Linked DNA regions of Homo sapiens. The protein of the gene in region 1 interacts with the protein of each later gene in a pairwise test. Each region holds a gene or a part of one and is shown in the gene's direction. Other genes may lie near its edges.

Evidence for each region.
Region 2: the proteins of PRDM5 (region 1) and CLCN1 interact in binary tests that used the Homo sapiens proteins (3 or more experiments, as listed by UniProt).
Region 3: the proteins of PRDM5 (region 1) and FAAP20 interact in binary tests that used the Homo sapiens proteins (3 or more experiments, as listed by UniProt).
Region 4: the proteins of PRDM5 (region 1) and RASD1 interact in binary tests that used the Homo sapiens proteins (3 or more experiments, as listed by UniProt).

Annotation. Positions count from the first base shown.
Region 1 is NC_000004.12:120,912,712-120,919,733, reverse strand, and holds part of PRDM5 (PR domain zinc finger protein 5), read left to right. Parts: intron 1-3,643; exon of another isoform or gene 3,644-6,464; coding exon of another isoform or gene 6,465-6,479; intron 6,480-7,022. UniProt on the Homo sapiens protein: Sequence-specific DNA-binding transcription factor. Represses transcription at least in part by recruitment of the histone methyltransferase EHMT2/G9A and histone deacetylases such as HDAC1.
Region 2 is NC_000007.14:143,311,160-143,319,124, forward strand, and holds the start of CLCN1 (chloride channel protein 1), read left to right. Parts: upstream 1-4,951; 5' UTR 4,952-5,053; coding exon 5,054-5,233; intron 5,234-7,965. UniProt on the Homo sapiens protein: Voltage-gated chloride channel involved in skeletal muscle excitability.
Region 3 is NC_000001.11:2,191,757-2,199,283, reverse strand, and holds the start of FAAP20 (Fanconi anemia core complex-associated protein 20), read left to right. Parts: upstream 1-4,511; 5' UTR 4,512-4,534; coding exon 4,535-4,596; intron 4,597-5,150; coding exon 5,151-5,286; intron 5,287-5,373; coding exon 5,374-5,645; intron 5,646-6,308; coding exon of another isoform or gene 6,309-6,426; exon of another isoform or gene 6,427-7,527. UniProt on the Homo sapiens protein: Component of the Fanconi anemia (FA) complex required to recruit the FA complex to DNA interstrand cross-links (ICLs) and promote ICLs repair.
Region 4 is NC_000017.11:17,493,922-17,500,452, reverse strand, and holds RASD1 (dexamethasone-induced Ras-related protein 1 isoform 1 proprotein), read left to right. Parts: upstream 1-4,057; 5' UTR 4,058-4,271; coding exon 4,272-4,557; intron 4,558-4,768; coding exon 4,769-5,328; 3' UTR 5,329-6,016; downstream 6,017-6,531. UniProt on the Homo sapiens protein: Small GTPase. Negatively regulates the transcription regulation activity of the APBB1/FE65-APP complex via its interaction with APBB1/FE65.

The DNA of each region.
Region 1 (7,022 bases):
TCAGTGAAAATGTGGCATTTTAGGTTGCAAAGTATTATGCAGATTAAAATTAATATTAGTTACTCAAAACTCATAAATTAAGTATACATCCAATAAAAATTTAAAGTTAAGCAGACACCTTACTACATTACATTTTTTGTTTCATGACCATTTTTTTCCTAGCTTGCTTATATGATTAACCACCAGTGGGTGGTGTTTTTTGATATTGTACCTGAAACTGCAAAGTGGAAAGGTTATTTCAAGCTCTCAGATTATGTGATTTTAAGGGAAAGATTAAGGTGGAAATACACTGCTCTCAGCTTTCTTTCCCTTTGGATATTTTAGGCTGTAGGTTTTTCTTCTCTGACTTTCAGTCATTTAATCATTCATATGTGGCAGGTACTGTACTAGGCCCTGGGAATACACAGGTGAGCAAGACAGACAAGGTCTTTTTCTGCAAGGAGCTTGCTTTCTTATGTGGGGAGATAGGCAGCAAACAAGTATAAAATGGAAGATTACCAAAATGATTGAGGCAAGTGTTAAATTAATTGCAGGAAATAAACAGGATGAGGCATTAAAGAGTAAATGAGGGGTGGGTCTACTTTAGGAGGGTCAGCAGGGAAGACTTTTCAGAGGAAATGACTTCTGAGCAGAGAGCTGAAGTCGCTGAGCCAGCCAGGAGATTCTCTAGGAAGAGAAGTGCAGAGAGCCAGCCTGTTCAGTATAAAGTTCTTCCTCTTTCAAAGTGCCTGTCTCTGGGCTTTGGCCAGAGGCATGCTTCCCAGCCTGTGGGCTGGCCACTTGGCAGGCTGCAACCATTTAGGAGAAATAAAGTCCTGTCTCCGCCTCTCCTTTTCTAAAATTATATCTTGTAATTTTTTGCTGAGTTAACAGACATCATCTAATTGGCACATCCTCATTTTACAGGTGAGAACACTGAAGCCCAGAGAGTTGCAGGGAGTCTTGCAGCTCACAGTTGCCTCTCAGATTCCTATGCCTTCCACAGTGTCAACTCCCTCCTTTCCAAACCAAGGCACACACCTTGATTCTCACTGAGGGATTTGTACTAAGGTCATTTGGTGAGGTAAAATCCTAAGTAAAAAAAAAAAAAAAAAAAAATACCTGACGTAAAGGCTTAAAGGTGAGTTTGTAAAAATACAGTAAGATTTTAAAACAAAAGTCAAATTTTACAAAGTTAAAAAAAATCAAAGAAAGAAAAAAGCTGAAACAGATAAGTAAATAAAAGCCTGTAGAGGAAAAATCACCATGCATAAATGTTAATACAGGAAGAGCAGACTTTGTGGGATAAGGTGTTGTGTTGATCAGTGTAGAAGGTGACTTGTCTGAAGAAACATGGATTTGTATCCTAGGGCTAAAAATCTGCCAGCCAATGTTTGCTTACATTTCCTGGTGGCCGATGATAACTAATCTGGAAACATAATCAGAGGAAAAGTAATCATGAAGCCTGCCGTATATGCTATCTCTTCCCTGTGTTCACACATTCACACTTCTCCATAGTGACTCAAGGCAGCTTTGTATTTCCTGGTGTTATTAAACATTTTTTAAACTATGTAACTACTCTAACATTTTCTCCAAACTATATTTTTTGTGATAATGGCAGCTACAATTAATTCAATAAGTATTTATTGAACTATGGCAGTTTTTAGGCACTGTTTTAGTTACTAGTGGCAGAAAAGCGAGTGACAGAGACAACAGTCACTAGATGCTTTACACAGTTTTTAGTGAAGTCCTGCAATAAACCTGCAAGGGGGCTGTTAGTATCCCTGTTTTATAGATGAGAGAGGTGATGTTGAGGAAGGTTACATCAGTCATAAGTGGATTAATGAAAATTTGAACTCAGGTCATTCCATATACACTTTTCCTTAAAAATGTTTTTTCTCTATTCTGATAAAATGCTATATCCACAAATATACAAACACATGCACACTTTTAAAAAAAACATAAGTTTACAAAAATAAGAAAAGAGTAAACTCACTTCATCATCTCACACTTCTTTCGACGGTATCTTGTGGAAATTCCTGTATCTACCTTGGCTCTGTTTTTTTTTTTTTTTTAATGTCTGACTATAGTCTATGCTGTGGATGTGCCATAATTTTTATTTATTCAGGTCTTGTTTTACACATTCATTTAACAATCTTTATCACTCTATATGCCAAGACCTGTACTATTCACTTTGGGGTACAATAGTTAAGAAAATAGGTATTCTGGCTCTTGGGGAGCTTGCAGTCCAGTGAGGGAAGACACAAGATAACAGACCTATAAGATAAATTTTATACTATGTTAAATATTATAAGAATTATAGAAAAAAGAAAAAGAGCTAGGTATGGTTGACTTGGCAGAAAAGGTGTGTGGGTGTGTGTGTGGGATGCTATACATGTTAGATGGGTCAGTTAATCCTCACTAAACAGGAGAGATTTGGGCAATTATTTGAAGGGTGGTAGGAAATTAGCCAAACATATATCTACGGGAAGAGCATTCTAAGTGCAGAAGAGGCAGCTACAGTAAAGGACCTAAGACGGGAGTTTGCCTGTTGTGGTCCAAGCACAAGGAGGTCAGTGTGGCTGGAATGCAATGAGCAAGCAGTTGAGGAGGAGGTCAGAGGGCTAATGAAGGGATGAGTGTTAGGGGAAGATCCACTGCTTAGAGCCCTTTAGGCCACTGCAAAGCCTTTGACTTTTACTTTGCGTGAAATGAGAGGGCACTGCAGAGTTTTGAACAAAGGAGTGACATAAGTTTATCAAGCATGACTCTGGCTGTTCTGTTGAGAAAAGTTTGCCACAGGGCAAGTGTGTAAACTGGGAGAGTTAGGATTCTACTGCAGTAATCCATGTGAGAGGTGATAGCAGTTTAGACCAAGATAGTGGCTACTTTGGTAGTGTGGGGTAACAGAACATGCTGATAGGATTGGATGTGAAGTGTGAAAGAATGGGAAGGATTCAGGATGATTCCACGGATTTTAGCCTGAGGAATTGGAAGGATTGGATTGTCAGCCAACAACTGAGATGGGGAAGGTTGTGGGTGGAGGAGGTTTGAAGAGGGCAGATCACGGGTTCAGTTTAAGGCATGTTGTTTTTGAGATGTCTGTTAGACAGCAAGGGGATATGTCAAAGTGTCAGTGAGATACAATTGTATAATGCAGTTCCTCCTTCCCATTCTTTAAAATGTCACACATTTTATGTTTTATGTTATAAATCTTACAGTACGTTTTTACTCTTGTTTCTTTAGATCATCAGTGATCTTTTAGAGCAATTAAAATGAAGACAAATTGTCTTTGTTATGTACCTCTACTTTTTACCATTACATTTAGCTATTTATTTATTTATTTATTTATTTATTTATTTATTTATGAGATACAGTCTTGCTCTGTCGTCCAGGCTAAAGTGCAGAGGTGCGATCTCAGCTCACTGCAACCTTTGCCTCCCAGGTTCCAGCTATTCTCCTGCCTCAGCCTCCTGAGTAGCTGTGATTATAGGTGCCCACCACCACACCTGGCTAATTTTTGTATTTTTAATAGACAGGGTTTTACCATGTTGGTGAGGCTGATCTCGAACTCCTGACCTCAAGTGATTTGCCCACCTCGGCCTCCCAAAGTGCTGGGATTACAGGCATGAACCACCGTGCCTGGCCCATTTATTTATTTTGAACTAAGTTTCTGTCTGGTATCATATTCTGAATGCTGAAGAACTTCATTTAACATTTCTTATAACACTTGTCTTCTGGCAATGAATTTTCTCAGCCTTTATCTGCCCTTCTGCCCTGCTCTTGTTCTTCTCCCCACAGTGGACTTCGCTGTGTTATTTTTTGGTGCTGGGTGGGCTGATGGTGAGGGGTATGGGAGAAGGATCTCTGTTGTCTTGTTCCATTCGCCCTCTTATGTAGGGTTTCTCTGCCTGGGCACTGGGAGTTGGGCTTTCTCAATATGCCTGCTCCTCTTCCCTAGGAGAGCTAATCTTTTAACTTGTGTCAGTGGTTGGTCTTTTGTGGGTGAACATTTCTTGTCCCTTCCCCAGTGGTAGGAGTCCTTTGATGGTTGTGGTCTAAGTGCTTGAGCCTGTACTGTTTCTTTCCCTTCTCCCCGCAGTGGTGGATCTTTACTGGGGTCATCCTGGGGATGACATAGTTTATTGCTTTTCTTCAGTAGCTAAAGGCTTTCTTCTGATATGAGAAAAAGGTCAGGACAGGAGGTGTACACTGTCATGCCATTCTTGCAGCAGCTGCTGTTCCGCTCTTGCATGACAGCATCACTGAGGAAGTCTCTTTGTTCTCCCATCTGTTCCCAAACCTCTCTCACATGGGGAGGTCCTTGGAAAATAATGTGAACATGCCTGTGAGCATCTCTTGGGTCTGGGGCTTGCTGTAGTTCTATACCTTCATTCTGTCTCACATTCCTCCTTTAGCAAGTTGTTAAAATGTTAGTTGATTTTTTACTTGTTTGGATGGTGGATGGAGTAGGGCACTGGCCACAGGTAAGCTAGTGCTCTCCTTAAGAAAAGTTATGATTTTGCAGTTTATCATTCTCATTGTTAGGATAGTAGTGATACTCTTACTAACCTTCTTGGTGGAAACTGAACTTTTATATATTTTTTATTTCAATAGCTTTAGGGGTACAAGTGGTTTTTGGTTACATGGATGAATTGTATAGTGGTGAAGTTTGAGATTTTGGTGTACCACTCACTGAGTAATGTATATTAAATCCAATATGGAGTTTGGATAACCCTCCTAGCCTGTCTCTTCCGAGTGTCCAGTGTTCATTATACCACTCTGTATGCCTTTGTGTACCCACAGCTTAGCTCCCATTTGTAAGTGAGAATGTGTGGTATTTGGTTTTTCATTCCTGAGTTACTTCACTTAGAATAATGGCCTCCAGCTAGATCCAAGCCGCTGCCAGAGACATTATTTTGTTATTTTTTATGGCTGAATAGTATTACATTGTGTATATATACATTTTCTTTTATCCACTCATAGGCTGATGGGCACTTAGGTTGATTCCATCTCTTTATGATTGTGAATTGGGCTGTGATAAACATACATGTGCAGGTGTCTTTTTGATACAATGCAGTTGATACAAAGCATTTCCTCTGCTTGCACTCACTCCATCCTGCAGCCCTTGGAAGAAGGTGCGTGCTTCTCTTTTGCCTTCCACCATGATTCTGTTTCCTGAGGCCTCCCTAGCAATGTGGAACTGTGAGCCAATTAAACCTCTTTCCTTTATAAATTACCCAGACTTAGGGAAGTTCTTTATAGCAGTGTGAGAATAGATTAATACACTTCTCATCCCTTTAAAAAAATACTCTGGAGTTATGGTTTTATATGTGAGGTTTCCTGGATCTGTTCTCTAAATATCATATTTTTATCTGGTCATGGTTTTCACTTGAGATTTTGTTTTTGAATTTGATTCTAAATATCATATTTTTATCTGTTCGTAGTTTTCACTTGAGATTTTTTTTTGAATTTGATTCTTATCTCTTTCTTTCAATTCATTCTGTAAAGATATTTAATTGGGAAGTTAATGGTTTTTAACTCTTAAAAGTTTTTTTTTTTTTGAGTGCTGTATTTGAATCTCCTTAAATTTTCTTAGATAATTCAGGTATTCCCTTTAGTTGAGGTATTCTGTCTGCTGCAGAACACAGAGCGTGGGTCTAATTCTTCTGCCTTATCTTCCTTTTTCTAGCAGCTCTGCTCCTTTGTATGGGCTGTATCCCTTGGTTGACTCATTGGAGCTCAAGACTGTTATTGAATAGTCCTCTGTGGCGTCAGTCCTGCAGGTGGTAGAAGGCAAATGGGTCTCTCTTCAGTGGGCCTGCACTGGCAGATAGGCTGTCAGTTCCCTGTCAGTCAGCTTTCTGGTCTCCTTGTACTTTTGTGGGCATCAAGAGCAGGAAAGATTGTGGGCTGTGACCCCCTCCATCTCTGACTTTCAAATTCTTTTTGGGATTCCCTGGTTTTCAGTCCTTGTCCCTGGTTACTCTGCTGTCCTCTACTTTATTACTAAGTCTACTGGAGAGAACACCTCACACCAGATTTCTGCCAGAACCTAAGGCTTCACTTGCATCCATTTGCCCACAGATGCTAGTAGTAGTTGTTTTGCTCAAGAGAGGAAAGTAACAGGTTTGAGGGTGAAGGGGAAAGGTGTTGCATTCAGGTCACCATATACCCACAATTCTTTTTGTCGCATCTCTTCTGCATTTCCGTTTTGTATTATTTCATAAGTGATGCATTTCATAAAGAATAATTCCATTTTATTATAGGCACCACTACATTTCTTTCCCCTGACCTCTGCTATATCAACTGGAGTAAGAGAGACAACTGCAGTAATTAAACTTGAAGTTTTTGTTCTCCCTCTAACAGGAAGCTGGCAGATGGAACAAGATGTTTGTGGCCATTAGTTCAGTGGCTCAAAATGTCAGGGCAGAAGTCTTTGCAATTCTCTTGGACTCAAGGTGGCTGCTTCAGCCCCAGCTATCATGCTCATATTCCAGGTAGGGAGAAACAGGATTAGGTATACTTTCTAGTTGACTCAGCTTCATTTAAGAACTTGTGTGATAGTTCCATACAATGATTTCTACTCACAGGTTGTTTGCTCCCTTCTCTTCGAGATAAATATAGTATTTTACCTGGATACATTAGTACCCTTAACACGATCAGTGTTCTAGTACTAATGGGAATGGATATAGGGAGGCAACTAGTCTGCCTCAGACTTCCTACAGTGGGGAAGGAAGATTGGTTATTTTTCACATTGAACTTTTAAGAAACACATTTAATACACTATTGAAGGTCTAATTATATTGCAAAGGCACATCCATGCACAGTAGTTTAACATTGAAACATAATTATGTTCTAAGTGGGGACTCTAGTCTCCTTCTGTGAAAAACATCATTATTTCAAATATAAATGACTCAACTGCAGATTGATTCACTTTAATGTATTTATTTCATCTATATGTATATTTTTTATTTCTGAACTATTTCAAAGTAAATTACAGATGTTGTGACAATTCACCCCTCAATACTTTAGCATAAGGA
Region 2 (7,965 bases), on another chromosome or scaffold:
AAAAAATAAAAAAGAATAAGGAGGCAAGCCACAATAAAGAGGAGAGGAGACATGACCGCCAGTGGCATACAATACAAAGTGTCTTCAGAGGAAGTTGTAGCTTAGCTGAAATTTCAGAAAGTAGGTGGCCACGGGTTCCATGGCTGCCTGGATATGCAGAGGGAAAGTGATGACTGAAAACACCTTTAAAGAACATAAGGGTTTTACTGCCCACTATGCTGGGGAGGCCAGACTGGAAGACGTGAGAGTCTGAAAACAAGGGTGTAACCCAGAAAGAAAATTCTTTCACCTATACCCAACACAAAACTTCTCCTCCATGTATCTTGCATGGCAACTTTTTACGATTTTCCTTCAAATAGCAATTCTATAAGCCTATGGGCTTTTAAACTTTTTGTATAATGGACCCTAGGATGATCTATTTAAAACCCCAAAAGAGGCCGGGTGCAGTGGCTTACACCTGTAATCCCAACACTTTGGGAGGCCAAAGCGGGCAGATTACCTGAGGTCAGGAGTTCAAGACCAGCCTGGCCAACATGGTGAGAAACCCATCTCTACAAAAATACAAAAATTAGCCGGGCATGACCGTAAGTGCCTGTAATCCCAGCTACTCGGGAGGCTGAGGTGACAGAATCGCTCAAACCCGGGAGACGGAGGTTGCAGTGAGCAGAGATCGCGCCATTGCACTCCAGCCTGGGTGACAGTGAGACACCATCTCAAAAAATAAATAAATAAAATAAATAAAACCCGAAAGAATATATATCATTTATGCATGCTTATGAATTTGCTTCCACATTCAGGAGCCTTACAGGAATCCCTAGAAGCCCATCTTTGTGCCTCCAAATAAGAACCTAAGCTACTAAGCCCAGCGGGATGATGGAGTGAGGAGTGGGCATGGTTTACATTTTCTTTTCTTGTTCTCTTGCAGGGATTTAAACCCATGGGATTTAAACTATTCCTAATTTCAAACACAGGATATTTACTCTCAAACCCTTGCCCACCAGCACTGGCAGTCTGTACATGTCTTTGACCCTCCTAATTTCAGAATCTGGTTTTAAGAATCGCAGTTGGTGCTTTCCTTCTAGACCACACGCTTCCACTCAGCTTGGCTGGATGTGAGCACTTCCCTACTCCACTGGTCTCTGCCTTCAAATCTCAGAGTCCATGACTAGGCTGCTCTGTTTTAGGGCCCTGTCTTTCTCAGAAATAGTAAGAAAGTCATAATTGTATCTCATATCTTGCTGCTTATATTTATCAAGTTTCTACAGCAACTGATCACTTTCAGGAAAGCTATACTCCTCAAATGGGAGAATCTTGTTTCTGAAGTCCTCCAAGGAATGCAGTGTTACCTTGGCACTCTATTTTTTTGTGTGTGCAACAATGTCTTTTATTATGTATGCGGTTTTAAAATTATTTCTTGAATCTCTCCATACACAGGCAAAAAATAAGTGTGCTACTTAACATACTGGAACTTGCCTAACTTAATCATTGCCCAGAGAAGGGAAAATTATCACCAAAATGTGCTTAACCAGGAGGCCAATGCATCTGCCAACCTCCAAGAACATGGAGATGAACTTGACAGACAGACTGTCCACCATCTGAACCTTTATTCACCACCATTTGATAACCCTTATTCAGGCCCAAATCAGCAGCACATTTCTTGCCAACAATCATTAAGTGTCCAAGAAGACTTTCGTCATTATCTTCTGCTGCAGAAATCTGGGATATATGTTTTTTCGATATCAACAGAAAACGTGTTGGTGCTTGAGGGGAAGTGTCATGGAAAGCAAGGCACTGGTCATCCTCAAAAATGATTTTGGCTGGGATTTCCTTGCAGATGATCTTCCCGAAGACAGTGTTGCCACCAGGCCGAGCGACCTGAGCCTTGGCGATCTCACCTGCCATCTCTGCCTGTCTCCCACACAGCAGGCAGGGTAGAGGCTCAGAAGGAGGGAGGAACCCACAGATTCTATTTTCTTTGTTAAGAAAGTAATCCTTTCTGCTCATACCAATCCCATAGATGTCTATCCTTATTTTCTGCCTGCAGAAAAGGTGGGTATCATCACAGAATGTTTAGTCTCTCAATTCATCACACATTTGTAATTTTTTGGAGAGATTATAGGCCTTGAGGTTTGTAGGATTGTTGTTAGAGCAGGTGTTTTGTTTTTTTTTTTTTTTAGCTACATTGGTGTATAATTGACAACTAGAAATTATACATATTTAATTACTACTTGAGACCGTGATTACAGCAGTTACTACTGTTACCACTTGAAACCATCATTATGACCGAACAAAGGGACGAATGTAGAAATGAAAACTTAAGACAAAAGAAACTGTTTTAAGGAAAGGCAACATGAAGAAGAAGAGAGCTCCCTGCTTCTAGTGAGCAAAGGCAGCTCCCCTGCCGAGCTTCTCAGCCCTTCATATTTACTGGGTAACAAGAACAAGAAGGAGGTAACGATTGGTCAGCTGCTGAATTGATCACAGGTTCATATTGTTACTGACAAGCTTCAATTGTACCTAATCATAAGAAACATTTGTGCGGCCTCCAACAATGTACAACTTGATGTGTTGATATATGTGTACATTGTGAATGATCATCACAATCAAGCCGGTTAACATATCCATCACCTCACATAGTTGCTTTGGGGGTGCAGGGAGGTGAGAACATTCAAGATCTACCCTCTTAGCAAATTTCAAGTATGTGGTATTACTACCTATAGTTACCATGCACATTAGATCTCCAGGACTTTCTCATCTTGTATAAGTGAACCTTGTATCCTTTGACCAAATTTCCCCATTCTCCCACCCCCTACTCCAGCCCAGCCCCTGGCAACTACCCTCTACTTTCTGCTTCTATGAGTTTGACTATTTTAGATTCCACATACAAGTGCAATCATGCAGTATTTTTCTTTCTGTGTCTGCAATGTTTGACTTAGCGTAATGTCCTCCAAGTTCATCCATGTTGTCACAAGTGGCAGGATTTTCTTCTTTGTCAGGGTTGAATAGTATTCCATTATATATATTTATATACACATGACATTATTCATCTGTTAGTGGACACTTAGGTTGTTTCCATTTCTAGGCTATTGTGAATAATGCTGTAATGAACATGGGAGTGCAGATACCTCTTTGAGATACTGATTTCCTTTCCCTTGGATGTATGGGAGTTGCTGAGTCATATGGCAGTTCTGTTTTTACCTTTTGAGGAACTTTTATACTGTTTTTCATAATGACTATACCAGTTTACATTCCCACCAACAGTGCACAAGGGTTCCCTTTTCTCTGCATTCTCACTAACATTTATCTCATCTTTTTATTTAATTTTTTTTTGAGACATAATCTCACTCTGTAGACCAGGATGGATTGCAGTGGTGCCTTCCCAGCTCACTGCAGCCTCCACCTCCCGGGCTTCAGTGATCCTCCTGTCTCAGCCTCCCAAGTAGCTGGGACTACAGGCGTGCACCACCACACATGGCTGATTTTTATAATTTTTATAGAGACAGGGTCTCCCCATGTTGCCAGGTTGGTCTCGAACTGCTGGGCTTAAGCATTCCACCCGCCTTGGTCACCCACATTGCTGGGATTATAAGCATGAACCATAATATCCATAGCCATAATAATGGCTATCTCTTGCTTTTTTGATAATAGCCATCCTAACAGGTATGAGGCGATATTGCATTATGATTTTGGTTTCCTGATGATTAATGATGTTGAGGCCCTAGAAAAAGTACTTTTAATGATATTGGCTTCCCTCCTGCTTTGGGTGGTTCCATTTAGCCTAGGTCAAAATCACATTGTAGACCAGATGTTTGGTGTCCCTACCCTGCAGTCCCTGAACTTGGACTGTCCTGGGACAGACCCCACTTGGTAATGCATCCTAAACTTTACTTTGGCTCAGTTCATATCTTTTCTCCTACAGTGAAGAGTTCATAGGGAAGACATGTCATAGGAAAATTGGTTTTATAACGTGATGCCAGGAAGAAAAGTTTGTCCTTGGCCAAAAAAGTATTTATTGACCTGAAAAGGGAAGAATAGCAGAGAGCACTTCCCCATCATCTTTCATGTTTGTCGGGCTTGTCATGAGAAGCCCTCACCCCTTTCCCACCTCTCCCTTCCCTGTGCCTCTTTCTACTTTCGATTCTCCCCTGTTATCTCCCTTGTTATCTATCTGATGGAGCCAGTGTGGGCACTCCACAGTCCAAATGGAAGCTCAGTCCCTCCGGGTTGGCAGTGTGGCTGACACCTAACAGTCTGGGAAGTGGGAGAAATTCTAGAACCCAAGGCTATTACCGACCCTCGACTTCCCACTTCCCATAAGTGTTCCACACCCAGTGAGTGATAAGGATGGGATCAGGGGATGCCCCCAAGCTGTTATTAGCAGCCTCTGGCAGACAGAAGGGCAAAGAGCTAGAGAAGAACGCTGGACATGGGATGGGCTGGCAGAGCTGGCCAGACAGAACCCTGGGTGGACACAGAGTTGGGAACAAGCTGGCCAGGAGATGTGGCAGAGAGGCACCAGTTACTTTCCCAGGTGAGTTAATGTGCCAGTGTTTCCAGAACTTCGAGTCGCTTCATCTTTATCCAGCACCCACCCCTCACCTTCCGCATCCTGAAGAAGAGAGATGGGCAACTGGAGGGCTTCCATGCAGATCCGGCTCTACACATAGGTTTGAGAGCATACTCAGCAGTTTCTCATCCTGGTCCAGGCGATATTTATAGAGGGACCAGTGACATGGAGCTGGAAGCCTACTACTGGTGACTAAGAAGGGGGACAATGCCACTGGCTCAGCAGAGGGAATTCCCTGTGGGGCTGTCCCTCAGGTTCTCATCCCAACCCCCACCCCCACACTGCACTCACACCTGCTTCGACCCCAAGCAGATCAGATGTGGCAGTGGGGGGTCATGTGACGGAGAGGGGTCTATAAATAGCTGGAGGTGGGCATGCTGCCCCAGACGCCTTGGGGACAGCAAGAGCAGAGGCTTAAGGAGCTACACTGGGGGAAGGACAGGGGCAAGCAGGCCAAGGCCTGGCCGGGGCTCGGGGGGAGGGAATATGGAGCAATCCCGGTCACAGCAGCGTGGGGGTGAACAAAGCTGGTGGGGTAGTGACCCCCAGTACCAGTATATGCCCTTTGAACACTGCACCAGCTACGGACTGCCCTCTGAGAATGGGGGCCTCCAGCACAGGCTCCGGAAGGATGCAGGCCCCCGCCACAACGTCCACCCCACACAGGTAAAGTGCTCTAAGGGGAGAGGGGAGCCATGGATGAGGGGAGACAGTGGTGCCAGAGACTGGTGAAAATGAGGAATTGGGTGAAAAGAGGGAGCAGTGTTACATTTTTTTAACTTAAAAAACAAGTACGTGGTGATGTGTTCAAAATATGAAAATCTTTGAAAGTCTGGGCTCACTTAAGTATGCACTTAGAGAGATATGCATGCACTTTCATACAACCTTTACCAACAGAGTACCCAAATCATATGGGGAAACAGCAGAGCCTCACATGCATGAATAGCTCGTGCTTACATAACCTACGTGGAGTGGATTGCGTAGGAGCCCACACTGCAGTGTGCTGGGAGCTGTCTCCCACACCCTCACCCACAGGTAGACACTGCCAGATTTCTGCCTCTGGGACCCTCTGCAGAATACACACAAACATGAATCTTTCTGCAGAAGGCAGAAGAAAGGAATTGGGCAAGTGTAGAAAACAGACTGAATTGCTTATCAGTGATCAAAGATCTACCAACGTCAAAATGAGCAGAGATGTACAAGCTTTTAGGTCGCAAGATGATCAAGTAAGAACCTATTAAGTGTTAGGCACCTGGAAAAGGGCAGAGATGTGATCCCAGCAACAGAAGCATGCAGGCTAATTAGGAGTGTCTATGGATGAGCAGCCTCCCGCTGTGGGATTGGTGGGATATGAACACCTAGGAAAGGGGGAATGGGGATGGGCACAACTAAAGGAAAGGTTGTGAAATTGTCATGGAAAAAGATAGGTCATGGTTAATAAGTAAGTGTGCCTCTCCCTCCAAAGAATGCAGAGAATAACAGAGGATAGAATTTGTCTAGAGGGCAGTTGGCCAGAACTTTTTTTTTTTTTTTTTTTTTTGAGATGGAGTCTCGCTCTGTCTCCCAGGCTGGAGTGCAGTGGTGCTATCTTGGCTCACTGCGACCTCCGCCTCCCGGGTTCAAGCAATTCTCTTTCCTCAGCCTCCTGAGTAGCTGGGATTACAAGCACCTGCCACCATACCTGGCAAATTTTTGTACTTTCAGTAGAGACGGGGTTTTGCCATGTTGGCCAGGCTGTCTCGAACTCCTGACCTCAGGTAATTCACCCGCCTTGGCCTCCCAAAGTGCTGGAATTACAGGTGTTAACCACTGTGCCCAGTCTGGTCAGAACTTAAAAGGCTTTTTTTTCTTTCTTTTTTTTTTTTTTAACAGGGAGCCTTCAGTTCCTTTAGGTTTAAGGCTGGGAAGCTGAGGCATGAGCTATGCAGGGGATCTCAGCACTGGGGGTCAAAAGGATCTGCTCTCAGTCCCTGACCAACCCCCAGGAGTATTTGCAAAGGCAGCGCTAGGGACCCAGTAGGGAAGAGGGACATACAGGTCAGTGTAGGCTGGAATCGAGCATTGGGAAGGTTTCTTGGAGACAGCGGGGTCTGACTAGGCCTTTGAACACTGTGTGGGATCAGCAGGAGGGAAGACCCCTCCCCCTGGCCCTGTGTTCTCACTCGTGTACATGGTTGTATCTGGGTGGGATGGCAACTTGAGTAACAGTGCCATTATGGCACTTCCTGATGACAGTTCTCGTGTTGGGAAGCTATGGTTAGTTTGGGGAGTAGAATTGGCCTGTTTTCTACAGGTCTCAAAAGTAAACAAGAGTTTGGATTAGTTTTTCTTTGTTTAATTTTTATTATGGAAGACTTACACAAAAATGGAATGGTATAGTGAAGCCCCAAGTACCCACCAGTTGTCAATATTTTGTCACTATTGTTCCATCTATTCTTCCCTTCCCCACCCTCACCACTCTACACACCATGGAATACTTTTTTTTTGTTTTTTGTTTTTTGTTTTTTGTTTTTGAGATGGAGTTTCGCTCTTGTTGCCCAGGCTGGAATGCAATGGCGCGATCTCAGCTCACCGCAATCTCCGCCTCCCTGGTTCAAGCAATTCTCCTGCCTCCGCCTCCCAGGTAGCTGAGATTACAGGCATGCGCCACCATGCCTGGCTAATTTTTGTATTTTTAGTAGAGACGAGGTTTCTCCATGTTGGTCAGGCTGGTCTTGATCTCCTGACCTCAGGTAACCTGCCCATCTCAGGCTCCTAAAGTGCTGGGGTTACAGGGGTGAGCCACTGAGCCTTGCTTCCACCTTGGAATACTTTTTAACAAATCCCAGACATTGTATCACTTGTAGACTTGAGTTTTGACTTCTCCCTTGCCCTCCCCTCACCCTGCCCTGCATGGGACCAGCCAGAACAGATCTGGCCCTTTAAGTGTTTTCCCAGCCCAGGTATGATGATATGAAGCAACCCCCTTCCTTGTCTCCACTGGCCTGGGGCCTTGAGGAGCTGAGACAGCCTCAGCTGTCTGACTTCCACTGGGAAGTATGTTCTCTCTCTGGGTCCCACGCAGGGTTTGGAAGGAAACACTGCCTCCCTCGGTCACTGACCCAGAAGACAAACAGCCATGAGCAGGGCAATTCATGTGCGTGCTTGTTCAGGACTGCGGTGTAAAATGCTGCTCATATTGTGAAATCAGATCTCTTCTACTCAGGCTCTCCCAGAATCCAGCAACATGGCCTGGCCTGACCCTGGCCCCAGAGGACAGTTAGTGTAGTGGGAGTGGGGCAGGCTAAAAGTGGTTGGAGCTCTTGTATACCCCACACAGACACACGTGCTCTGCCTCAGGATGGAAGCGGAGGGCCACCAGACCTGGGGGAGCTGCTCTGTCCTCTTCACATGTGGGG
Region 3 (7,527 bases), on another chromosome or scaffold:
GAGGACAGGCTGTGGGAGGGTGTGAACCGGATACTGCTTGAAGGGGTGCTGGGGACTTTGAGAGAGGGCGGCTGGCCCTGTCTGGTCGGGGATGCTGGCCCAGACACAGGCCATGGCTGGGATGGGGTTCAGAAACAGGACCGCTGTCTCTCCCGGGCCAGGGCCCTCCCCAGCTGCTCCTGGCTTTCTGGTTCTTGGGGTCAGGGGCAGGCCTGTGCCATGACCCCGCCACTGAGGCTGTGAGGAGGCTGTCGGTGCCCAAGGGCACCAAGGCACACCCCTACTCTTGCACCCCATGTGTGGGCCCGAGCACCTGCTCTGCTGCCCCAAAGATCTGGCGATGTTTCCCAGGCAACTGTCTCTCACAGCCTGTCTGCCTGGCACTCCCGTATCCCATAAATGCCACCACATCTGGCTATGGGTGGGCGTGCCTGCCTGGCATCCACGGGCCAGCAGGTGTGGTGGAGCACAGCCCAGTTCCTGGCTGCGTCAGAAGGCTGCCCGGGCCTTTTGGCTGTCCTTGCCAGCAGGTGAGCACTGCCAGGGCACCGTGTGTGGGTGCTGGGCCATTTAGCCACATGGGAAGGGGTGGAGGCAGCCCAGTGCCTTCAGCATGTGCCCAGGGTGCCTGTCGGCCACAGGTCTCATTTGGAAATTGGGAGGGTGCACGGCCACCGGGCTGCTTAGGCCTGCCAGCCTCAGGGCCCGTCACCGCTGTCTTAGCCTGATTTGCAGGGTGTCAGCGCTGGGCAGAGATGAACATTTGGGTGACTCTGAGGATGCCAGTGGCTGGGACACTTGTTCTTCCGCGGTGGAAGGAGTTGGAGAGGCCTGGCTCCCTGACCTACGGCCAGCCTGGCTTCTGAAACCAGCTCAGTGGGCTGGGGCCTGATTCATCATCCATAAATGTGTCCTTTTTTGCCACAGAGGGTAAGGGGCCTCCTAGCCCACCGGTCTGCAGGTGCGGGAGTAGGAGATGGGTGGCTCTGATGCCCCCACCCACTCGATCACCTTCTGCTCTGCCTGGGATGCAAACTCCCACAGCTGAAACGTTCTTTTGTAAACATGAATTTTGGCTTAGAAAAAACTCATTTCCACTGTGCACGTGTCAGTCCCAACCAGAAATTATTTTCCAATAAAGCAAAACTCCGTCACCACAGCAGCAGATGGCTCCGAAGAAGTGGAGCGTTTTCATCAGGTTCAACTTTGAAACCTCCACCATCACCATCACCAGCACCGCTGTGTCATGCTGATAACTTGAGGACAGGCAGGACAAGGTATGTTTGTTGGAGGTGAACATGCTTCCTTGTCTTGAGAGTCTTGAGTGGCCGGTCCCCTTCCAGGCCCTCGGCTGGCAGGCAGCTGTCGGGAAGCTGTCAGGCGGGAGGGGATTGGGGGTCAGGCTTCCTGACAAGTGGAGGCACCCGCCACGTGCCCAGAGCAGAGGTCACCCCAGTGCCTTTCTCTGTGGACTTATCTCTGGCTGTAGGTCACAGGGGCCTGCCCCACTGCCCCCTCCCCAGTGGTGACATGGGAGGAGGGGAGATTAATCCAGAGCAGCAGATAAACTGGAGGGGAAGAGCCCCCAGGAGGACAACTGTGACACGTTGTGCTGCCTCTGCGTCCCCAAAGCACCAGGCCCAGAGGCCCTGCCTTCTGCCCCATGGCACTGGCCTGGGGCCCTGGCTCCTCTTCCCTGGTGGCCAAGGGTAAATGAGGCCCACTGGGGTGGCTAAGACTCAAGGGGATGGGGGCCCCCCAGCTTCAGTGATGCGGGCTGGAGCCAGGCTCAGCCAGCCCTGAGGTCCCCTGCAGGCCCGTGCCTCCTACCCTTGGGGCACCCGCAGCGAGAGCTTCCCAAGCAGCCTGCGCCAGCCGGGCAGCGCAGGTGTCCCGGGTCTGGGTCACTTGAGACCCCGCCCTGCTTCTGCTCGGCTCTGCCCCTCTTGGGCCCAGTGGCCAGGGCACCTGCATGGGGGAGCCGGGAGGGGCTGGAAGGATGCTGAAGACCCCAGCAAAGCTCTAGTGTTTGGCTTTCCAGGGGTGGGGGCTGGGTCCTCCCGCCCAGAAAGGCCCCTGTTCTGGGGCAGCAGCCACACACAGGTGTCCCTCACATGGTCCTCCAGGACAGGGCAGGGGCCTGAGTTTCCCAGGCTCTGCCCAAGGGACCCAGGCAGGGAAGGAGATGGGTCCCAGGGGGCTCGGAGCCCATCCAGAGGCCGGCCGGTCCCATGGCAGGAGGGCACTGGACCATGTGGGGGCCATAGAGGAGGAGGAGGCAGGAGCCACCCCCGGGTCCAACAGCAGAACCCTGGGGTTGGGAGCCAGAGTGGGGAAGGGAGAGGAAGGAGCAAGAACACCCCCCACCACCCCCAGCACGGCACAGAGAGCTGAGCAAACACTTGTCACCAAGGGCTTTTCTCCTCTGTCTTTTTTTGTTTTTCGAGACAGAGTCTTGCTGTGATGCCCAAGCTGTTGTGCAGTGGTGCGATCTTGGCTCACCACAACCTATGCCTCCTAGGCTCAGGTGGTTTTCGTGCCTCAGCCACCCAAGTAGTTGGGATTAAAGGTGTGCACCACCATGCCCGGCTAATTTTTGTATTTTTAGTAGAGATGGGGTTTCTGCATGTTGGCCAGGCTGGTCTCAAACTCCTGGCCTCAAGTGATCCTCCCGACTTGGCCTCCCAAAGTGCTGGGATTGCAGGCTTGAGCCACCACACCTGGCCTATTTTTTTTTTTTTTTGAGTTGGGGTCTGGAGTGCAGTGGCACGATCTTGCCTCACTGCAGCCCCCACCTACCTGGGCTCAGGTGATCCTCCCACCTTAGCCACCCAAGTAGGTGGGACCACAGGCACATGCCACCATGCCCAGCTAATTTTTTATTTATAGAGACAAGGTCTTGCCATGTTGCCCAGGCTGGTCTCAAACTCCTGGGCTCAAGCAATCTGCCTGCCTGGACCTCCCCAAGTCCTAGAATTGCAGGCATGGGCTGCTGGGCCTGGCCTTTTCTCCTGTCTTGGGAGGCTGGGACCAGTCTTCCTGGAAGTACCCAAGGCCCTCCTGCAGACCATGGTGACATTTCCAGGAAAGACCCAGAAGCTCGGAGCTGAAGCCAGGGCAGCCAGGACTGTCGGGGAGCCCTGGACACTGGCTGTCTGAGAGCGCTTGGTCAGCTGGCACCTGCCATGTGGTGGACGTGGGGCTGCAGAGACCCCACGGCTGGGCTTCTCTCGCCTGAGAGCAGGCCCAGCCACAGGCTACCTCCCACAGGGCCCCCTGAGACCACACGGCCTGCAGCAGCTCCCCCAGGCCCCCTCCCCCTGCCCGGGCAGCACTCAGCGCTGCATCTCCATCTGCTCACTCAAGTCGAAGGGCCTGGGGGTTGGTGCCTCCATCTTGTTCTGCTGGGGGCCTCCAGCATCTAGAGCAGGAAGGTGTGCGGAAGAAAACCACTCATGCAGGGAGAGGGGGACCTCCCAGTCCAGGCCCTGCTGCTGACCCTTTCCCTGAACACCAACCTATGGCCTCCAGGCTGGGGCCCCTTGAAGGACGGTGGGCCACTCGGGTGGCCTGGGTTCAGGGCCGGGCTCCACAGCTGAGTTCTGGAGGGAGGGCACAGACGACTGGGGGCTGGGAGGGGCCAGGTGAGGGGTAGGAACAGCCAGGGAGCCCTGCAGGAGGGGTGCCCAGCATAGCCCCAAAGCTGCTGGGGCTGGGCAGGGCAGAAACTGCCAAGGAGTCCCAGAGCCCTGAGTGGCGTCTGGCGAGGGCCCCTGACCCTGATCTCTGTAGACCCCACTCCTTCCGTGAGGGTGGCAGCCACTCCAGGGCCCAGCAGGGCCAAGGGAGAGGCAAGTGGCCTGGGCCCATGGGGCACTGGGCACAGCCAAGTGTGGCACCAGGGTGCCTGGGCGGCTGCTGCCACCACGTGGCCGACTTTGAGGTCGCAGAGCCCGGGGTCCAGGCAGGAAAGCCCCTCAGCTGCCCCCAGGGCCCTGGCCCAGGCCCCTGAGGCCCAAGTGAGCCACCTGGACTTTGTCACTTCGCCTCTGGTTTCTTGGTTAAGGAGCTTGAGTTCCCCGCCTTTTGTAAAGAAACGGTGGTGGCGACGGCGGATTTCAAGCTTTATTTACTCCTGGAATGGTCCTGGGAGGAGAGGCGGCTCCGCAGAGCCGGAAACGGGGGCGGGAGCTGTTGGGTGCAGCCGGGAGGAGGCAGTGCCGGGGCGGGCCGGGCAGCCATCGGGGTAACGGAGGGGGCTCCGGCCCGGGGGCTGCCCGGACGGGAAAGGGGACACGGGCGGGGCTCCCCCACCTGGGCCCCCCACCCTCACGCCAGGCCCCCCTGTGCGGTGCAGGACGAAGGAACCCTGGCCTCAGTTTCCCTACAGGCTGGGATCAGGGCCCCTGGGGTTCCGACTGTCTCGGAGGGGGGCGGCCTCGCTGCAGAGGTCTGGAGGCGGGGCCGGGGCGGGGGCGGGGCCTGGAGGGGCGGGGGCGGGGCTTGCGCTCACTTCCGCCCGGCGCGGGCTTGGATGGAGGCGGCGCGGAGGCCGCGGCTGGGGTTGAGCCGCCGGAGGCCGCGCCCGGCGGGCGGGTGAGGCCGGGAGCCGGGCGGGGGCGCGGCCGGTTTTCCCGCTCCCACGTGCTTCCCGGCGCCCCCGCGGGCCTCCCGCTCTATTCTCCCCCTGGGGAGGGCTCCCTGCCCCCGGGCCCGGCCCCCACGCCCGTCGCCCCACCCCGCGCCGCCATTCAGCGCCCGCCTTGAGCCCCCACCCCACGCCGAGCTTCCCCCGCGCCGCCCCAGGCCCTCCCGCGCCTCTCCCATCATCGCGTCTCCCCTGAGCACCCCCCATCTAACCCTCTACCTTCCCCAGGCCCTCCGCAATCTCCCCAACCATCGCCTCATCCCGCTGAGGACCCCATATTTCCACCCACCCACCCCGCTCCCCCACCCCCAGTACCCCTCATCTCCGCACTGTCTGCCCCAGCAGCCCTTCCCCCAACCCTGCCGGCCACCTCCCGCACCATCGAATTTCCCTCTAGTACCCCCCATCTCCCCGCTCTCTCTGCCCCAGGCCCTCCCGGGTCTCCCCACCATAGCGTTTCCGCTACTGAGTACCCCCTGTCTGCCCTCTCTGTCTGCCCCAGGCCTTCTGGCGGCCGCCCCTGGTTTCTCCTGGGGGGTGATGAGCGGGAGCGGCTCTGGGCCGAGCTACTGCGCACGGTGAGCCCGGAGCTGATCCTGGATCACGAGGTGCCTTCACTGCCCGCCTTCCCAGGACAGGTGTGCCCACTGGGCCCATCTTAGCGATGAAGGGGTTTCCAGGGCGGGAGCCATCGCTGGGCAAGGCCCAACAACTCTGTGTTGCAGGAGCCCAGGTGCGGCCCGGAGCCCACTGAAGTCTTCACTGTCGGACCCAAGACCTTTTCCTGGACACCCTTTCCGCCGGACCTGTGGGGCCCGGGCCGTTCCTACCGGCTGCTTCACGGGGCAGGAGGGCACCTGGAATCCCCCGCCAGGTCCCTGCCCCAGCGCCCGGCACCTGATCCCTGCAGGGCCCCCAGGGTGGAGCAGCAGCCGTCTGTGGAGGGTGCCGCGGCCCTGCGCAGCTGCCCCATGTGCCAGAAGGAGTTCGCCCCCAGGTGAGTAGGCCACCCCTGCGCCCGGCCCGGTTATCCATCCGTGTTTGGAAACCACAGCCGTTCAGAAGGTCAAGAGGTGGCCGAGCTCAGCGCTGGCTTTTAAAGCCCTGTTTCACACTGGAAAGGTGGCCCAGTGCTGTGGCCTGGCATGTCCAGGTGGCTCTCTGTCACGGGTCTGGGGTCCACCTGCTTGCCGTGCTCTGTGGGCAGGGCAGGCTGGGGGCCCACAGAACAGCACAGAAGGAAGGCTGGGAGCACTGGCCCCGGGTCCACCTGGCCATCCTGGAATCTGGTGGCACCAGCGTCCCCAGGCCCAGAGCACAGGAACACCTTCCCGAGAGTGCGTCATGGGTTTTAAAAATGAAGATCGTCTTTTTTGTCTGGAGATGCTTTTTCTTATTTTTGAAACCCAACGTATATTTTTATGTATTTTTTAAGTAAAGGGGAATGGAACCCAGTTTTGCTAACAAGATAACCCAAACTGCCCAGTGCCTGGCCTTGTGTCTGGCGACCTCTGGGCCCTTGGCCTCCGGAGCAGGTCCTGGGGCTGGGGTGGTGTGAATGATGCTGGTTCGTAACTTTTGGTTGAGTTAATGGGCGGCAGGTTTCAGAGCTTATGGAGACCAGGTCCTTCAGTCATGCCTGATGCCCCTGGTCTTCCAGAAGCAAAAACAGCTCGGGAATGCGAAGGCACCGGAGTCCAAAGTTGGCAGCCAACAACAACAACAACAAAAGAAAAGGCCGGGCACGGTGGCTCACGCCTGTAATCCCAGCCCTTTGAGAGGCTGAGGCAGGTGGGTTGCTGGAGCCCAGGAGTTTGAGACCAGCCTGGGCAACATGGCAAGATCCCATCTTTACATGCCTGGGCGTGGTGGCGCGTGCCTGTGGTCCTAGCTACTCTGGAGGCTGAAGTGGGAGGATTCCCTTGAGCCAGGAATTGGAGGCTGTAGTGAAGTATGATTGCACCACTGCACTCCAGCCTGGGTGACAGAGTAAGACCCTGAATCACGGACAGAGGGTACTGTTGGGAGCCCTGGGGAGAAATCCATGCTCTTGGCTGAAGCTCTGAGATCCTTGTTGCTGTCAGGGTGCTGCCCCCCGCCCCCCGGGGAGGGGCTTTTGTCTTTGCATCGCCTGCTTTTCCAGATAGTCTAAAAAAAGACTTCTGAAGACAAGGACGTTCACGAGGAAAAACTTGCCATTTTGAGCTTTTTAAGCAGTTGCTGAAAGCTTGGCAGACTGCCTCAATTTTTCCTAAGTAGGCGTCAATGAAGTCAGGTCCAGGCCTTGGTGTGTCTGGAATGCTTCAAGCACATTCGAACACTTGATCGTAAGGGAGAGCCGGTACTTTGGAACCGGAACTCACCCGAGGCTGTGGCCACCGCATGGGCAGGCTAGCTGGGGGACAAGCCCCATATCTTTGGGAACAAGGGTTTGCACAGCCACCCTGGGATGCCCTGGGACTCCTGACCGCACAGGACCCCAGCAGGGAGGCCGCCTGGATTGGAGGGTCTGGTCTAACAGCCGGACTTGGTCTTGAACCGTCGCCCTGTCCCGCACAGGCGCCTGCTGAGCCTGGAGCCCTGGCAGAGGCGGGTCTGGGGAGTGGAGCTGCCAGGAGGCCTCCCATTTCTCACAGCCTTGGTGTTCTCCGGGTCACCCAGAGGACCGTCAAATGCTGGATTTGACAAACTATGTAGAATGTTCTTTGTGTCTTTAAGATCTTCTTGTGGTCCTATTTGGACATTTTGTGCATTTTCAGACACCTGCGGGTCACGTGGGTGGATGGGAAGCTGGGCACCTGGTGAGGGGTGAGGATGTTGAGAGCCAGAGCTGCGTTTTGTCTCTGTTGATGTGGCGAGGCCCTGGGTTGGTCACTGGG
Region 4 (6,531 bases), on another chromosome or scaffold:
GGAAGAGCCTCCGGGCATCGGGAGTGGCAATGCAAAGGTCCTGAGGTAAAATACAAAAATTAGCCAGGCATGGTGGCATGCACCAGCACTCCCGGCTACTCTGGAGGCTGAGGCAGGGGAATCGCTTGAACCCAGGAGGCGGAGGTTGTAGTGAGCCAAGATCACACCACTGCACTCCAGCCTGGGTGACAGAGCGAGACCAAGGAAAGGCATGGTGTGGCACTGGGCCAGACGGACACTGCACACACTGACCCTGCGGCCCCTCATGTGTAAAATGGCCATCATAGTCATGACTGCCTTGTGTATAAAGCAGGTGCTCAGGCAGTGCCTCCCTTATCACCCATGGAGCTCCTCAAGGTTTTCTCTTTGCTTTCTAGAATCCAGAATCTGTCTCAGGGCTTGAGGGGCATGAGAGGCGTCCGGTCTGACCATATCCAGTGCCTCCGTCCTGCTCCTGCTTGCACAGGTGCTCACTCCCTCCGCCAGCACCTCTGCACACACGGCCTTTGAGGACATATTGCTGATGGATGGGCTGAGCCGGGCAGCAAAGCTCCGTGCATCCTGACCCTTGGTTCCTGGGGCAGAGCCGGGAGCCTTGGGCTGAACTGGCTTCTGCTGGAAGGGTCTGCTCTGTCGGGTACAGAGCTCATCACTGATGAGGAATCTACCAGAGTTAAAATCTCAGCTTGATGAGGGGAGCCTGTCAGAGGGAACGCAAAGCCAGCTCTATTTGCCCCTTTCCTCCTCTTCAGGAGGTGGCGTACCAGGGCCACACAGGATAGAAGCGTGCCTCAGGGCCTCCTCTGTCCAAGGCGCTGGTAGAGATGGGCTCTGGCCGCACGGGCCAGCACGGCAATGCCCAGGCCCGAGGGTGCTCTGGGTTCCTGTCACCTGAAGTAGCCACTTCTGGCCTTTGTGTGGACTCTGTCTCAGGACACCACAACAGGCAAAGCTCTGATGGGGTGCCCAGCATTCTCCTCTGGCCCAGCTCTCAAGAACCTTCTAATTGCTCTTTGCCCTCAAATGAGGCTGTGTGGCTGGCATTTCCTGCCTGGGGCTGGTGGGGGGGGGGTGGGTCCACCTGCCCACCCCCAGATCACCCCCGACATTGTCAAATATTTTAAACAGTTCCCCTCCCCTCTAAGCAGCAAAATTGCTGCACTGCAGGTAAATACTATTTACAGACAGGCTCATAGCCTCATATACGCTGTTTGTTGTCTCATGCCCCAAACACACAGAAAACAGAATTATTTATTGCATACAGCATGGGACTGTGATCAACCTGGACATCAAATGCCGCGATGGCTGACAGGGCCCAGGCGGCGGGAGTGCTGGGAAGCCCAGTACACGTGCTCCCTCTCTGTGGGACTCCGGGATCCACGGGGCGGATGGTTCTGTGAGTTGCGAGTTGTTCCTGTTTGTCTTCCAGCCCCCAGTCCTCCCCGGCCACTCTGATTAGCCAGCCTAGGGTAGGGCCTGGCATAAAGTCACACAGGCAAACCCCAGAAGAAGGAAAAAGGGCACCTGCATGAACAAAGAGCTGGGTGGCAGAGGCTGCACCGGGGTAAGACTTCCTTCATGCAGTTGGGAGTCCGCCCATGTGGGGACATCAGGAGATGCCACCCCACAGAATTGGTGGCTAGGCTGTCCTGGGTGTGGCCGAGAGAGGCCTGATCCCAGTGCTTCTTTCATTCTGGTCCTTTCTGAAATGGCTTGGGTTTTTAAAAAACCATGAGCATTTATTACTTTTGTAATAAAAGGAAAGAGATGCCCTTTTAAAAGAAAAGACGAGGGCGGAAACAAGGAAGTTGGCTTGCTGCTTGAGGAGTAAAGTCCCAGAGGCCACCTCCTTGACAGGAGGCGCTCTGGGGCATTCAGAATGGGAATGGCAGGTGGGCCTGGGTCTTCACAACCCAGCATCCGTAGGGCAGACGGCCATGCACAGATGGTACCAGGAATCACTGTGGCTGAGGACACAGGCTAGATCAGTGCCTGCCAGTGTCATGTTCCTGATTTAAGGGGCCAGCCTGGACACTGACCAGGGGAGAGCTGGGCTGTGATCCTTGACCCTCGGGCCCTCCACTCATATCAAATGGACCCTCTTGGGACTAGAGCCCCAGGAGGCAATGGCTGTGTGGGGTCCACCTTCACTATAGCCCTGGCCATCAGTCATCCCAAGTTAGAGCCCGGCTGCCCATGCAGTGCCGCTGTGGGAGGCACAGGAAGGCGGTGCTCAGTCTGAAGGTGGTTCAGGTCCGTACCTTAACTGAGCCCCCCCATGTACCCTCAACTGGCTCCTTTATGCAGTGAACACCCTGCACCACTGCAGCCCTATATCCAGGGCTGCGACTCAGTTCCTTCTCCCCTTCTCCCAGACTCTGGCAGACATACCTCAGATGGGGGCAGGAACCAAGAATGGCGGGGCTCCAGCCCCAGCTAGCCTGTCGGATAACTGCTGCATAAGTGACACCAGGAATCAGAGCCAGGCCAGGGCCACTGATGAGCCCTTGGATGCTCACTGTGTGATGCGTGCATTTGAAATATCTGACAGTAAGAGTGAGGCCTGGGAGAGATGCAGGGACTCTGAGGATGGGGGCCAAGCTGGGCTGAGAAACAAGTTAGTGGTGTCCTGCAGCAGCCCCTACAGCAAGTGCCAGCGTGGGAGGGAGGTGGGTAGGCATGGGGTGGGTGGTATGGCACTCACAGCACTGCCTGCAGACCACCACCTGACAGCTGGGCCGGTGGTGCCAGCTAATGGCTCCCTAGTTTTCTCGTAAGTCAGACGTGGCCAAAGCAAAACACTGAGCACACAGGTTGCCTTGAGGAGCAGTGACTGCCTCAAGAGCTCAGGGCTGAGGAGCTGGCTCCAGACAGCCTGTTGCCAATGTTCAGCAACATCACCCCACTCCTGGTTACTGATCGACCTGGTGTGCTCTTGAGAGTACCCCCACCAGGCCTCATGGGTCAATACTACTGTTATTGTTGCTATTGTTATTACCAGGCCCCGCCCTCCTAAAGCATTTGCATATTTTCATCCTTAATCACAGAACCAGAATCAGTATCTTCCAGAAGAGAAAACTGAGGCCCAGGAGAAAGCAAGAGGCTGTGCTGTGCTCCCAGGGCCTTCCTGGCTCGCTGTGGCTTTGAGCTCCAGGTCTCTCAGCTAGACAATGAGAACGTCGGCCCACGCGCGGCACAGTAAAAGCCCAAAATGCTATGATGGACGGGGTGGGCCGCTGGCTGCAGAGCCCTCCATACCACAGAGCATCTCTGGCTGGGAGAAAGGAGCAGGCTGAGGCCTGCAGCAGAGCGCGGGGTTGGGGACCGCTCCTGTTGGGCCCCAGCAAGGCGCCCTGAGACCCCTGCTCCATCCCTGCCGCTCCCCACCCGCCTGCTCCTAGCCTCTGTTCTAGCTCTGCCCGCGGCGGCCACAGCCTCCCCGAGCCGCCGGCCGGGCCCTCTGCTGCCCTCTGGCGGCCCGAGCGCGCGGTGCCGAGCTCCGCGCCTGAGGCCCTGAAACCCCGCGTCCGCCCGGCGGTCGCCTCCCGGGAACAAGAGCCCGGCTGGGGACCGGAGCGGAAGGGGGCTGGGGCTGGGGCTGTGCTCTGAGGACTGCAATATACGGTCCGCGCAAGCACTCAGCAAACGCTGCTGCGCTTACTGGGTTACTTACTAGATTCCTATTCTCTGGGGAAACTGAGAACCAAAGAAAATAAGTGTACGCGCGCGGGAGGTGCAGGAATGGGGGTCCTTGCCCGAAGTCGCAGAGGGACAGGGGCACCGCCGGGACCAGAACCCCGACGCCCCTGCGGCCGCCGAGCCCGCGGCAGTGGAAAAGCGGAGTCCGAGCGCCTCCAGCCTCAGCCCGACCCTGGACTGCTCCCCCCAGCCCCCGCGCCCAGAGAGCAGGAGCCCGGCAGCGGGTGACGAGGTCGCCGGGACTGGGAGCCGGTGCGGGGGAGGCGGGCCCCGCGGGGCGTGACGCACCGAGCTGGGAGGGCCGGGGCGGGGCAGCCGAGCAGGCTGCATATAAGGGCGGCGGCCGGGCGCCAAAGCCAGAGCAAGCGGCCTGTGCCCAGATCCTGGGAGAACCCCAGCCGAGCCCAGCCTAGCCCGAGCCCAGCCCGAGCGGAGCCGGAGCCCCAAGCCCGAGCCGCGCCCAGCCCGAGCAGAGCCCTCCAGCCGCTCACCCCGCGTGCCACCCCAGCGACCCTCAGCCGCTCTCTGCCCTTCTCTCGGCCCCGCGCCCGCCCTCGCGGCCCCTCTGCCCAATGAAACTGGCCGCGATGATCAAGAAGATGTGCCCGAGCGACTCGGAGCTGAGTATCCCGGCCAAGAACTGCTATCGCATGGTCATCCTCGGCTCGTCCAAGGTGGGCAAGACGGCCATCGTGTCGCGCTTCCTCACCGGCCGCTTCGAGGACGCCTACACGCCTACCATCGAGGACTTCCACCGCAAGTTCTACTCCATCCGCGGCGAGGTCTACCAGCTCGACATCCTCGACACGTCCGGCAACCACCCGTTCCCCGCCATGCGGCGCCTCTCCATCCTCACAGGTGAGCCGGGGGCCGGGCAGGTGCGGGAGGGAAGGGCGGGGAACCCTCGGCCAGGGCGCCCCGCGAGCGCCGGTCCGGCTGCCGCGCGCCGAGTAGTGCGCTTCGCGCTTAGAGAGGCTAGCGCGCCCCGCGCGGCCTCAAAGTCAGCCCGACTTGTCCCCTGGGCGGCCACCCTCACCTTCTCCTTTTCTGCTCTCTGTGCCCCCTCTAGGAGACGTTTTCATCCTGGTGTTCAGTCTGGACAACCGCGACTCCTTCGAGGAGGTGCAGCGGCTCAGGCAGCAGATCCTCGACACCAAGTCTTGCCTCAAGAACAAAACCAAGGAGAACGTGGACGTGCCCCTGGTCATCTGCGGCAACAAGGGTGACCGCGACTTCTACCGCGAGGTGGACCAGCGCGAGATCGAGCAGCTGGTGGGCGACGACCCCCAGCGCTGCGCCTACTTCGAGATCTCGGCCAAGAAGAACAGCAGCCTGGACCAGATGTTCCGCGCGCTCTTCGCCATGGCCAAGCTGCCCAGCGAGATGAGCCCAGACCTGCACCGCAAGGTCTCGGTGCAGTACTGCGACGTGCTGCACAAGAAGGCGCTGCGGAACAAGAAGCTGCTGCGGGCCGGCAGCGGCGGCGGCGGCGGCGACCCGGGCGACGCCTTTGGCATCGTGGCACCCTTCGCGCGCCGGCCCAGCGTACACAGCGACCTCATGTACATCCGCGAGAAGGCCAGCGCCGGCAGCCAGGCCAAGGACAAGGAGCGCTGCGTCATCAGCTAGGAGCCCCGCCGCGCTGGCGACACAACCTAAGGAGGACCTTTTTGTTAAGTCAAATCCAACGGCCCGGTGCGCCCCAGGCCGGGAGCGCGCGCGGACTGGCGTCTCCCCTCCCGGCGATCCGCCCCCAGCACTGGGGAGGCGCCACTGAACCGAGAAGGGACGGTCATCTGCTCCGGAAGGAAAGAGAACGGGCCAAGACTGGGACTATTCCCCACCCCCGGTCCCCCATTGAGGCCCGCCACCCCCATAACTTTGGGAGCGAGGGCCCAGCCGAGGGTGGATTTATCTTCTCAAAGACCTAAGAGTGAGCGCGGGGTGGGGGAGGGATGTGAAGTTATCCAGCCTCTGCTAGGCTTCAAGAAACCGTCATGCCCGCTTGAGGGTCAGGACCCACGGGGCATTATCTTGTCTGTGATTCCGGGTTGCTGTGACAGCCGGTAGAGCCTCTGCCCTCCCAAAACTAAGCGGGGGGGCGTGGGTCAAATCATAGCCAAGTGACTTGTTTACATGTGAGTGAAACTGCACAAAGGAACACAAAACAAAACTTGCACTTTAACGGTAGTTCCGGTGTCAACATGGACACGAACAAAACCTTACCCAGGTGTTTATACTGTGTGTGTCTGAGGTCTTTAAAGTTATTGCTTTATTTGGTTTTTTAATATACAATAAAATAATTTAAAATGGAAAACCGGTTTTTTTTTTTTTTTTTTTGCTTTTAGAGATGGCTGGAGTGGGGAAGGGTGGGGAGAAGGAAAGGGCTGGGCTTTGACTTAGGTGGAACTAGAACTTACCTTCCCCAGAACTGGAAAATAACCCTGGCCTTCTGAAGGCAGCTTCAGCTGCCAGAAAAGCCCCAGATGCCTGGGGCATCTATGTAGGGGATGGTTCCCTAGAAAACCGGGAAGAATATAAAGGATTTCAGGGTCCCCCCTGGAGATGAACTCTTTCTAGCCATCCACCCGCTTAATTTTCTTTGGGTTAGATGACAAAAGGCCTCATTTTCTGAGAGAATGTTCTGAATTCTTCAGCGTAAAAGCCACTGGAACTGTGCCTAACCATTTTGTCACCAGACTCAGTGTGGGCCCAGGCAAACTTTCGGACTGTTGGAGGCATCAGTCAGGCCCTGGGGAAAGAGCCTGAGACCCCATCTGGAAACAGGACCATCCTGGCGCGCCCCCACCACCCGCTCACTCCAGGGTGCCA